Regions from separate parts of the Homo sapiens genome. Here regions 2 and 3 are each reported to be linked to region 1. The links are microRNA targets in miRTarBase. Many come from high-throughput screens and were not tested one by one. Region 1 holds a microRNA gene; each other region holds the end of a gene's coding sequence.
What was found. Region 1 holds the annotated microRNA hsa-miR-4280 (GAGUGUAGUUCUGAGCAGAGC, at 1,026-1,046, opposite strand). A microRNA usually pairs through its seed, bases 2 to 8, with sites in the 3' UTR of a target mRNA and lowers its output. Matches are read on the target gene's strand: a 7mer-m8 pairs with bases 2 to 8, a 7mer-A1 pairs with bases 2 to 7 and ends in A, and an 8mer does both.

Region 2: miRTarBase lists UNKL as a target of hsa-miR-4280. The part of its 3' UTR that is shown has no 7-base or 8-base seed match.
Region 3: miRTarBase lists USP37 as a target of hsa-miR-4280. Seed matches in the 3' UTR shown: 7mer-A1 at 2,284-2,290.

What each region holds. Positions count from the first base shown.
Region 1 is chr5:87,113,899-87,117,153 of GRCh38, forward strand. It overlaps MIR4280 (microRNA 4280), which reads right to left and starts at 1,056; the gene lies at 981-1,056. All of the region lies in intron 1 of MIR4280HG (MIR4280 host gene), which reads right to left.
Region 2 is chr16:1,363,639-1,366,853 of GRCh38, reverse strand. It overlaps UNKL (unk like zinc finger), which reads left to right. Exons shown (of 15, transcript NM_001372107.1): 15 at 459-3,215. The coding sequence ends at 614. GNPTG (N-acetylglucosamine-1-phosphate transferase subunit gamma) reads right to left here. Exons shown (of 11, transcript NM_032520.5): 11 at 2,741-3,215. Among named protein-coding and RNA genes, the nearest start is that of GNPTG, 13 kb to the right of the region's middle.
Region 3 is chr2:218,452,083-218,455,337 of GRCh38, forward strand. USP37 (ubiquitin specific peptidase 37) reads right to left here. Exons shown (of 26, transcript NM_020935.3): 26 at 1-2,935. The coding sequence ends at 2,848. VIL1 (villin 1) reads left to right here. Exons shown (of 20, transcript NM_007127.3): 20 at 1-1,213. Among named protein-coding and RNA genes, the nearest start is that of VIL1, 35 kb to the left of the region's middle.

The DNA.
Region 1 (3,255 bases):
CCTTCAAGTTTAGTACAGTAGTCCCCCCTTATCTGTGGTTTCAGTTTCCATGGTTTCAGTTACCTGTGGTCAACCACAGTCCGAAAATATTAAACGGAAAATTCCAGAAATAAATGATTCCCAAGTTTTAAATTGTGTGCCATTCTGAGTAGCATGATTAAATCCTGTGCCATCCCACTCTGTCTCACCCGGGATGTGAATCATCCTTTCTCCAGTGTATCCATGCTGTATATACTACTTGCCCCTTAGTCACTTAGTAGCCATCTTTGTTATCAAATCAACTATCACACTATTGCAGTGCCTGTGTTCAAGTAACCCTTATTTTACTTAATAGTGGCCCCAACCCACAAGAGTAGTGATGCTGGCATATTGTTATAATTGTTCTATTATATTACTAGTTATTGTTAATCTCTTACTCTGACTAATTATAAATTAAACTTTATCATGGGGTATGTGTGTATAGGAAAAAATCATAGTATATAGAGGGTTTGATACTATCCTCAGTTTTAGACATTTACTGGGGGTCTTGGAACATATCCCTTCTTGGATAAGGAGGGAATACTGTATTGGATTGTCTTTGACTTCTCTACTGAAAGAAGGTCTTCTTCCCCACCCTTTGAACCCAAGTAATTCCTACTTAAGACTGAACAAAAATGAAACTCAAAGGAATACAGAGTCAATACCAAATATTTTATGAGCAAAAGATGGGTGCAGGCTATGGAAGAATAGACTTGGGGCTACATATTAAAAGCTGCTAATCATTCTAAAGACAGACCCTGAAAATCTGTCAACAAGGAAGCTGAAAAGCTGTCATCCTGGGAGGTATCCAAAATTGGAATGAGGAAATTCACACAGGTATCCGGAGACAAGAACCAGGGTTCAGACCTAGGGCAACTCGGCACATTCTGCCAAACCCTTCCTCCTCACCCAGCACTGTTTCCGTCGGTCACCAGCATGTTCCACTGCTTTCACTCCATAGCATCACAAAGGTGTCATTCAGTCTTGAACATACCTCATCCTTTAAGGCTCTGCTCAGAACTACACTCCACCCTGATTCCTTACCTTAAGTTCCTAATGATCTTTCTATTTTGACTTCCTGTGTCATTTTCAGGTCTGTTCTGCACAATGGAAATGAGTGTATAACCATTTGTGCTGCTAAATAAACGTGGAACACAACAGTTAATAAAAAGAGATTGAAAGACAGCCTTAGAAAATCTAAGGTGAAGCTGGGCAGAAAATAAAGGTCAGGCGTGTGAGTGGGCCAGGCCCAGTGATAGCTCAGTTGCAGGTAATGCCAAAGTTAAGCCTGGAACTAATGAAGCCTTCTACAAAAGAAATACTTTTAAAATACTGATGCTAAATGCTAAGGTCAAAGCAACAGTTCAGAACCAACAACTTAGACAAGGCCAAGAAGGCAGGAAAGTACTGAATATTTGAGCAGCAACAGAATGGGGATCCAGAGAAATTCCAAGAAGTCAACTTTCAGATTTGTGTAAAGGATAAATGACACTGTGTATCTAAAGTAATTCTCCCATTCCTTTACTTCGGCAGCCTCACTCTTTCCCATCTCCCCCCAGAATCTTCGCTTTTGACCTCTCCCAAGGAACCTTTCTTATCTGAGTCCTATTTAATGTAAGCCATATCCTAGTAGAGGCCACTGAACATCCCATGGCCTTCTTATATCCACAATGGGGCAGTAACCCCCTGGAGGCAGAGATATTTTTATTCTTCTGCTCCTTATTCACAAACCTAATCTAGAAAAAACGAATGTAGAAAAGCAAGGGATTTTTGCTGTTTTAAAGTCAGGTTATTTTTTAAGTAGTTAGTTAGTTGGTTTGTTTGTTTTTTGAGACAGGGTCTCACTCTGTCCTCCAGGCTGCAGTGCAGTGGTGTGATCATGGCTCACTGCAGCCTTGACTTCCTGGCTCAGGTGATCCTCCTACCTCAGCCTCCACAGTAGCTGGGACTACAGGCACACACCACCATGCCTAGCTTTTATGCAGTATTAAGGTATTATTGGACACATTATTTATAAAGGAATGAATATCTCCATTATTTTCAGCTCAGTCCTTCCTATGCTTTGATTTGTCTAGTTGCCTTTATTGTGCTTCATAGATGCCTGTCCTAGCATGACCCCCTGCAGAGTTATCACACAACTGTTTTTGAATAATTAAAAAAACTGTAAACATTTGTTTCACATATTCCACACTTATCCCCCACCTGCAGCCACTAGTTGGCATTTCGTTCTCCTTTGAAATAGAAATTTTTGGTCCACAGAGGCTTATCAGAGTGAAACACACTTTCTTTGCTAGTGCATTCAGAGAGCGAGATCAGCAGTAACTCGCCTGTTATTTTTTTTTTTTTTAGAAATTTTATGGCACTGCTCTAAAACCCAATAAAACTATTAATGGTCATACAAAAGTAAAACATTTAATTTTAAATTTTGATTACCTTTTAGTGAATTATAAATACAAAGTGTTCAACCACAAATAACACACATTACAAATAAAACAAGTAAGTAAATTAAAATTGTAAACAAATAAATGGATAAAACCCAAAAGTCAGTCAATGCTAGAGGAATAGGAGAAAACAAACTGTGTTAAGCTTTGTGGAGCTCTGCTCTAGTTCTGCTCCTGCTTGCTACAGATATTCTCTTAATGGTCCCCTGAAACTCTTTATTTTAATAATCGAACACCAAAAGTTGTTTAGCAGCATGTGTGGCCACAAATCTAAGAAAGTACATTCCATGCAGCTAGGTATGGCGAGTTTCAGCCCTTGATATATGACTGTAAGTAGTGTGTGACAAATCTTTGGACTTCAATCTTTGGTGACACTCTCTATTCCCCTTACCCCATTCCTATGGGTTGGAACATGATCATGGTACTAGTGACCATGTAGACAAGGACAACTGATGCAACTGACATTAAGGAGAAGAACTCGTCTATTACTGTGTCTGTAGCAAAAGAGATACATAAATATTAATCTTATTTAAGTCATTGTACTAAAAGGTTCCCATTGTTTCAGCAACTTAGCTTTTACCCTAAACAAAACATCCACCAATATTTATCCAGGACTCATAAAAAAATTATCTCCTTCTGCCTTATCTTAGCTCCAACCCAACTGTCTGAAAGTGTCCAAACACTCCTCCCTACTGGCGATGGAAAACTAGCTCTGGCTATATTAACTGGGGTGAGAAAACCAATATAGTTCTCCCTGTATCTAAGCTTAAGTTCCCAAGACAACTAGAGGCCATCA
Region 2 (3,215 bases), not on the chromosome of region 1:
TGTCAGCGAATGCCACACTGCTCCCCGTGGCCCCATCCCTCCCTGTTCACAGCTGTGACCCTCACACATGACCCCTCCACTTCGGCGTGCCCCTCCTCACCTCGCCTGCTAAGGGTGGGCTCTTGGACTCGCTGCTATAGGACAGAGGGTCCTGCGTAGCCCACATCCTGGGCACCCAGCTGCCCTCAGGGGCCTGGCCTGTCTGGCCACTGCCGTGTCTGTGGTGGCCCCAGGAGGCTGTCCTCTGCCCAGGGCTCTTAAGACAGAGCATACCCCCTGACCCCGCAGCTGCCTTCTCCCTGAGGTGGCCCTGGCTGGGGCGTCTCCCTGACCCTGTCTCTGTAGCTGGTGGCCGGGCGGCCTGAGATGCTGAGTCCTGCCCGGAAGGCCCTCCGGCTCCCCAGCTGGCCCAGCCTGGGCAGGGGCCTCCTGAGCCCGTCATTGTTCTGGCCCTGCAGGTGATCTTCCAGCTCCGCGCCAAGCAGTGTGTGGCCTGCCGGGAGCGGGCCCACGGTGCTGTCCTGCGGCCCTGTCAGCACCACATCCTCTGTGAGCCGTGTGCGGCCACCGCACCTGAGTGCCCCTACTGCAAGGGCCAGCCCCTGCAGTGGTGACCTCAGCGGGGACAGCCACCTCCTGCTGGGCACCCTGGCTCCAGCGCTCCTCCTGACCACGGACATGTCGTCACTCGCTTCTGGTGCCACCGACGTGAGGACCGAGGCTGGGAGCCCTTCCTGTTACACGTTATCATGAGGCTGGGAGCCCCGCCTGCGCTTGGCCTGACAGCCTTTCCTGTCACACGTTGTCACCTATCTAGTCCTACCGACGGTTTCAAGGTATTTTCCTCAAAAACCTTAAATGCAAACCCACAGAACCCGCCTGCCTGTCCCTGAGGGGCCTGGTGCCTCCGGGATCCACGCGGCGCTGTGATCACAGCAGTTTGTGGTCCTGACACTACTGTGACTAGGCCACTGGGAGCTGGGGTCTTTCAAAGCACTTTGTAAACCGAGGAATTTAGTTAGAGGTTATAAATTGCTCTAAGCTGCTTTCTGTTTTTTTTTAATATGCGATAATATGAAGCTTTATATGTGTACTGTGAACTTAAATATTTCATATCAGTTTATTGTCAATTCATAGTATGCTAAATATATTAGATTTCATATTCTGAAACTAGTACTTATGAAATGAGTGTTTATCTAGTAGTAAGACCTAGGATTTTTACATTTTCCAATTAAGTGCAAATAGTATTTATAAGCAGAGTGATTATGGATTGAGATGTTTTTAACTTGATGGAAGGAGCTAGTTTTCCTGAGCCTGTGTGTGCACCAGGCACTGGGGCTGATGTTCCAGCCTCGTGGCGTGGGAGCAGGAGAGCTCCGTCCTGCATTTCTGTGGTCCGTGGCCGCTGTTTCTGTGCGCCTGCGCCTCGGAGAGCAAGTGAAGGAGCATCATGGGTTTTGTTTTCTCCCTTAACCCTCTGAAAGACAGTTTGATACTAACAAAAAACGCAGCAGAGGGGATCCGACGTCAGAGCTTTTAGAATTACTTTTTTAAGCAGCTGTCTTCTGGCTGGGTGCGGTGGCTCATGCCTGTGATCCCAGCACTTTGGGAGGCGGGTGGATCACCTAAGGTCAGGAGTTCAAGACCAGCCTGGCCAACATGGTGCAACCCCGTCTTAGTAAAAATACAAAAATTGGCCTGGCGTGAGAGCGGGCACCTGTAGTCCCAGCTACTCGGGAGGCTGAGGCAGGAGAATCGCTTGAACCTGGGAGGCAGAGGTTGCAGTGAGCCGAGATCGCGCCACCGCACTCCAGCCCGGGTGACAGAGCGAGACTCTGGCTCAAAAAAAAAAAAAAAAAGCTGTTTTCTGATTACTCAGAGCTGTCCTAGGCAATGGTGCTTTGTAGCTCCTTGGAGATGTCGCTGGGCGTCCTGGCAGGGGTCAGGCAGTGAACTGGGAGAGTGGTTGCCTCCCCAGCACCCGTGACCACCCTGGTCCTGCTCGTGTGGGAGATGCTCGGGCCGTGTGTGCGCCAGGGTCCGGGGTGCCGGGTGTATGTGGCAGTCACCTGACCCGCGCTGCCAGTTATCATCGGAGCTCATCCATGTGGCCAGTGAGGTCACAGGAGAGGACCCGGCCACAGCCTCTCAGTGGCCTGGAGCACACGGGGGAAGCGACCCCCCCCAGGTCCCGGCTCTGCTGTGGTCCCCTGTCCCGTCTGCCCCTGGAGCGACAGTGTGGTTTCGGCCGCAGCAGAAACGTGACTGAGAACGCATCCCCGCGATGACCTGACCCTTCTGCTCAGGGCTGGGACTGTCCCTAGGAGTTGAGCAGGAACAGGCATCTGTGGTTTACGGCGACCTGGCTCTCCGCGGGCCACGTGGGTGGTGAGGGCACACGAGTGGGAAGCGGCACCGACGTGTTTCTCCCCGACCGTGGCTTTGCCAAAGACTTTTAATAGCATTTTTTAAGTGCAAAACGTCTAGGTAAAAATCTTTATCATCAGTGACCAAATTAGAATGTATTTAATATAGTAGGTGGTTTAAGAACTGTTTTAACGTAAGACAAACTGATAGCAACATTCTGTTGTTTTAAAGGAAGTGGGTCCGTGACATTCTGCAGCTAGTCCACTACTCCAAGGTAACTATCGACTTGGTTTCAGTGAATCTATTTTGTTTTTAACTACAGTGATTTATTAGCTCAGTATCTAGAAATTACGTATATTTTGTGCTACTGTCATCGATGTGTAAACTCTGTTTTTATTTGTATTTATGCACTTGGTTCCCATTTGGAGCCTCTGGTCTTTTCTGGGATAAGTGGTGTCTGCCGAGACATCTCCCGGTTGTCAGTGGTCAGGAGCAGCTGAGCTCTAGTCTGCCAGCTGCTCTGCTCTTTCTGGGAAGGAGGTGGCGCCCGCCCCTCAGGGTGTCTCCAGGGCTCAGCTTCCGGGGTGGTAGAGCTGGGGAGCCCCAGGGGTGGGGGGACAGCTGGGAGATGGAGGTGGCACCTGCTCCCCTAGATCAGTACTGGCTCTGAGGACAGGTGAGCAGTGGGAAGACCAAAGAATGGCTGGCAGCGCTGCCAGGGTTGGAAATGGGGGCAAGATCCTGGGGCTGTGTGCCCTGGGGCCTCCCTCACCTGTCTTGGTGGCCATGGCCTCAGGGATGGCTCCTAGGTGGCTGAGGCACAGCAGTGGCTGGAAGGTGCCCCGTGG
Region 3 (3,255 bases), not on the chromosome of region 1:
TAGGTGATTAAAATCAACAAATATGAAGTTTAGTTCATTTTTCCCTTAAAATTCCAACAAAGATCAAAAGGTTGTATCTAGAACTAATTGCCATCAAGTTCCAATTCAATGTCATTTAAAGTAATGTAACCACACATTTGGTATTTTCAATAGGAAGGTTAATTAGGTATTGTGCAAACTGCCTGCAACGGAAGCACTCAGTCCTTATCTAACTTGTCCCTTCCTGGCCCCAACATGCTAACTGCCCCATCCCCAATTCTGGGCAAACTGATCACAATGTGCAAAAAATAATATATTATCTATTTATAATTTTAAAATATATACAGCCAGCTCAAAAACAACAACAAACCCCATCAACATAGTCCAGCTGAAATCTCCACTGGTAGTCAAAGAAGTAGATTAAAGGAGTAAAGGAAGGAGAAGGCTGATAGGGCCACAAGAATGGACAGACATCAAGTAAAATTTGAGTCCCAAACATGCAAGTACATGAGCAGTGAGATAACTTATATATTCCAATAACCTATTTTCAACAACTCCTGCCCAAGACATGAAGATCAAATCAGGTTTCTGAGGTAAGTGTACTTCTAAACCATACACACATGAAAGCTATGAAAGCAATTCAAATGAGGCTGCTTCATGAGGCAATCTAGACTTATGGCATTATTTCTACTTTTCTCCATGTTTTAATTGCAGCCTGCACTTTAAATCTTTCCCAATAATTTTTAACAGTGCCTCTCAAATGCAAAGACACGTAAAAGAATTAATAACTAGCCAAAGAATTTTATCACCGCTTCACTCATTTATAAGAAAACCAATTATTTCCAAGCAAAATCAAACCAAACCAAAGAGGCTCCTGGTAGAAATGAAACAAAACTTTAAAGCTAGTTTTAAAACAAATATTTTCCTCTGCTCTAAACTACTCTGGCGTTTTCTACCACTCTACCATTTTGGAACATTCATTACAATAAGGTATATAGGTAGATGGTAGGAGGCAAAGCATTTATCAGTAGTTGAGCAAAACTGCTGAGGCCATTTATAATTCAAAGAATGAAAACTTAGAATAGTTTACTACATTAGAATACATCCAAGTTCCAAGAGTAGGACTGGAGCTCTCTTAAGGCAATCTTTCAGAAAAGATGTTGCATCTTCTGTGATGATGGTTTGTGTTTTTTTTGTTTTTGTTTTCGTTTTTTTTAATGAGATGGAGTCTCACTCTGTCACTCAGACTGCAGTGCAATGATGCGATCTCAGCTCACTGCAACCTCTGCCTCCTGGGTTCAAGTGATTCTCTCATGTGATGGTGGGTTTTTAAATGTTTTTTCCTTCTGAAAACCTGATGTGGTTTTGTCCCTACCTCTGAGAACTAAAGAATAATCCCCTTGTTTATAATAAAAGAAAAAACACGAAAGAATATAATGATGGTTTCATTTTTCTATATTTAACTCTGTGTGATCCTAATGATATCTGGGCTCACAAAATTATTTTGTGGACAGAATTCCATCCTCAAAAGAATTCTTTATATGGTTTCATAAGCTGCTTAACCAAGCTGGTTACGTCAGCTAAGTGACTAGCATAGCACTTAATGTTGCCGCTCTACTTTGCCTCAACTCAGAGCACCTAAAAAGTAGATAAATAAATTATGCACCTTTGTTATTTGTTAGTTTTTGGGATTACCTAAGCCAATCACATTTTAATTGCAACCCTATTTTAAGGGCAAAGCCAGACAGTAAATGGTTAAATGCCCAAGGTTTGTCCTACAGCTCAAGTACTTAATTTCATACTTGCAATAGGGCTTTTAGCTTCAGTGGTCCAGAATTTTAGCTTTACCAGAAGAACACTCTTCTTATCCTCCCTATGTTTGAGAGACAGAGATGCTAGCATTCTTCCTTATCCCTAAGTATTCCTGCTGGGGAGTCCCAATTGGAGAAATATTATCTTTCTACTTGTTTAAAGTTTTGGTTGCAATCCATTAGGGTAATGCTGCTCCATGGCAGAATGACAAAAAAGAAAAAAGATTCTATCTTTACCACCATAATAATGATGATGATATATGATGAACATACTGTGTGAAGAAATCTCCTTAGAGAAAACAAAGTATATAAGAAATATCAAATGTGGGACTGTAACATATTCCAAAGCACCAACAATCCATTTCTTGGGACTGCATGTAAACAGCAAAGACATCACAAATTCATGAAATTTGCAGACAACAACAACAACAAAACAGCTCCTCAAGTCAGGTGACAGTAATGCCCCTCTCTTGCAAAGAGAACAAACTGTCATTAGTGTAACATGAAGAGCTGGCTTTCCAGTGAATTTTACTAATAAGGAAACACAAAAGGTTACAGACTTGAGTGAAACTACTCAAGGAACATAAAAGCTAAAAGCCAACTGATAAGTATGTCTTCACACATTTCTCAGGTGAATGGACTCTTTGACACCTTCATTTCTTCTCCAAACTGCTGTGCTATTAATTTTGAGCAGGCATATTCTGGTGGCTCATCCTAACTCTTTAAGGCTCCATTCATCCCGTGTGTGTGTGTGTGTGTCTGTGTGTGTGTATACACACATACACAGATATATATTTACAACATGTATTCCTAAGACAAAAGAAGTGCCACTCATAGGAGAAAAAGAGGATAATCAGCTACGGATGTGAGACCAAAGTTTCCATAAAATAGCATGGAGCATTCTACGTTACTCCAATTTTTGTCTTTTGGTTTGGCCCTGAGCTGTTTGTTGCTCCCGCATCAAGTAGAATTCCAAATTCTCCTTCAGCAGAGGAAAGGTGAGGTGGGCAGCAGTAACAAATATGCAGTGCATGCTGCCAACCCAGGAGTTTGTTCCTCACAAGGCCTGACGGGTAGTCTTCCCCACTTCCGTGCTAAGTGACTGAGAGTTCTTTTCTGTTTCCAGCAGCTCATCAAAGATCTCCCTTAAGATAAAACAAGCAAAAAATAAAACTGGAAATTTAGTAAGCAGAACCAAAGAATAGGCAGGAGAAAAAGTAAAATAAAATTGATATGGATAAGGCCTTCACAATTCCATTTCATGCCTGTATTTTATTTAAAAAGCAGCTCACTCATTTGATCTTAACCCTTTGAATGCTGATTTTTAAGAATAGAGGGGAACTGACAACAGTTAGCTTTAATGAACATGCTAGGTAATTCCCATCCATATAAATCAGATCTTCTAGCTGATAAAACTGGATGACCAAAACTATTTATGACAGGACATCTTCTATCATAAAACAAA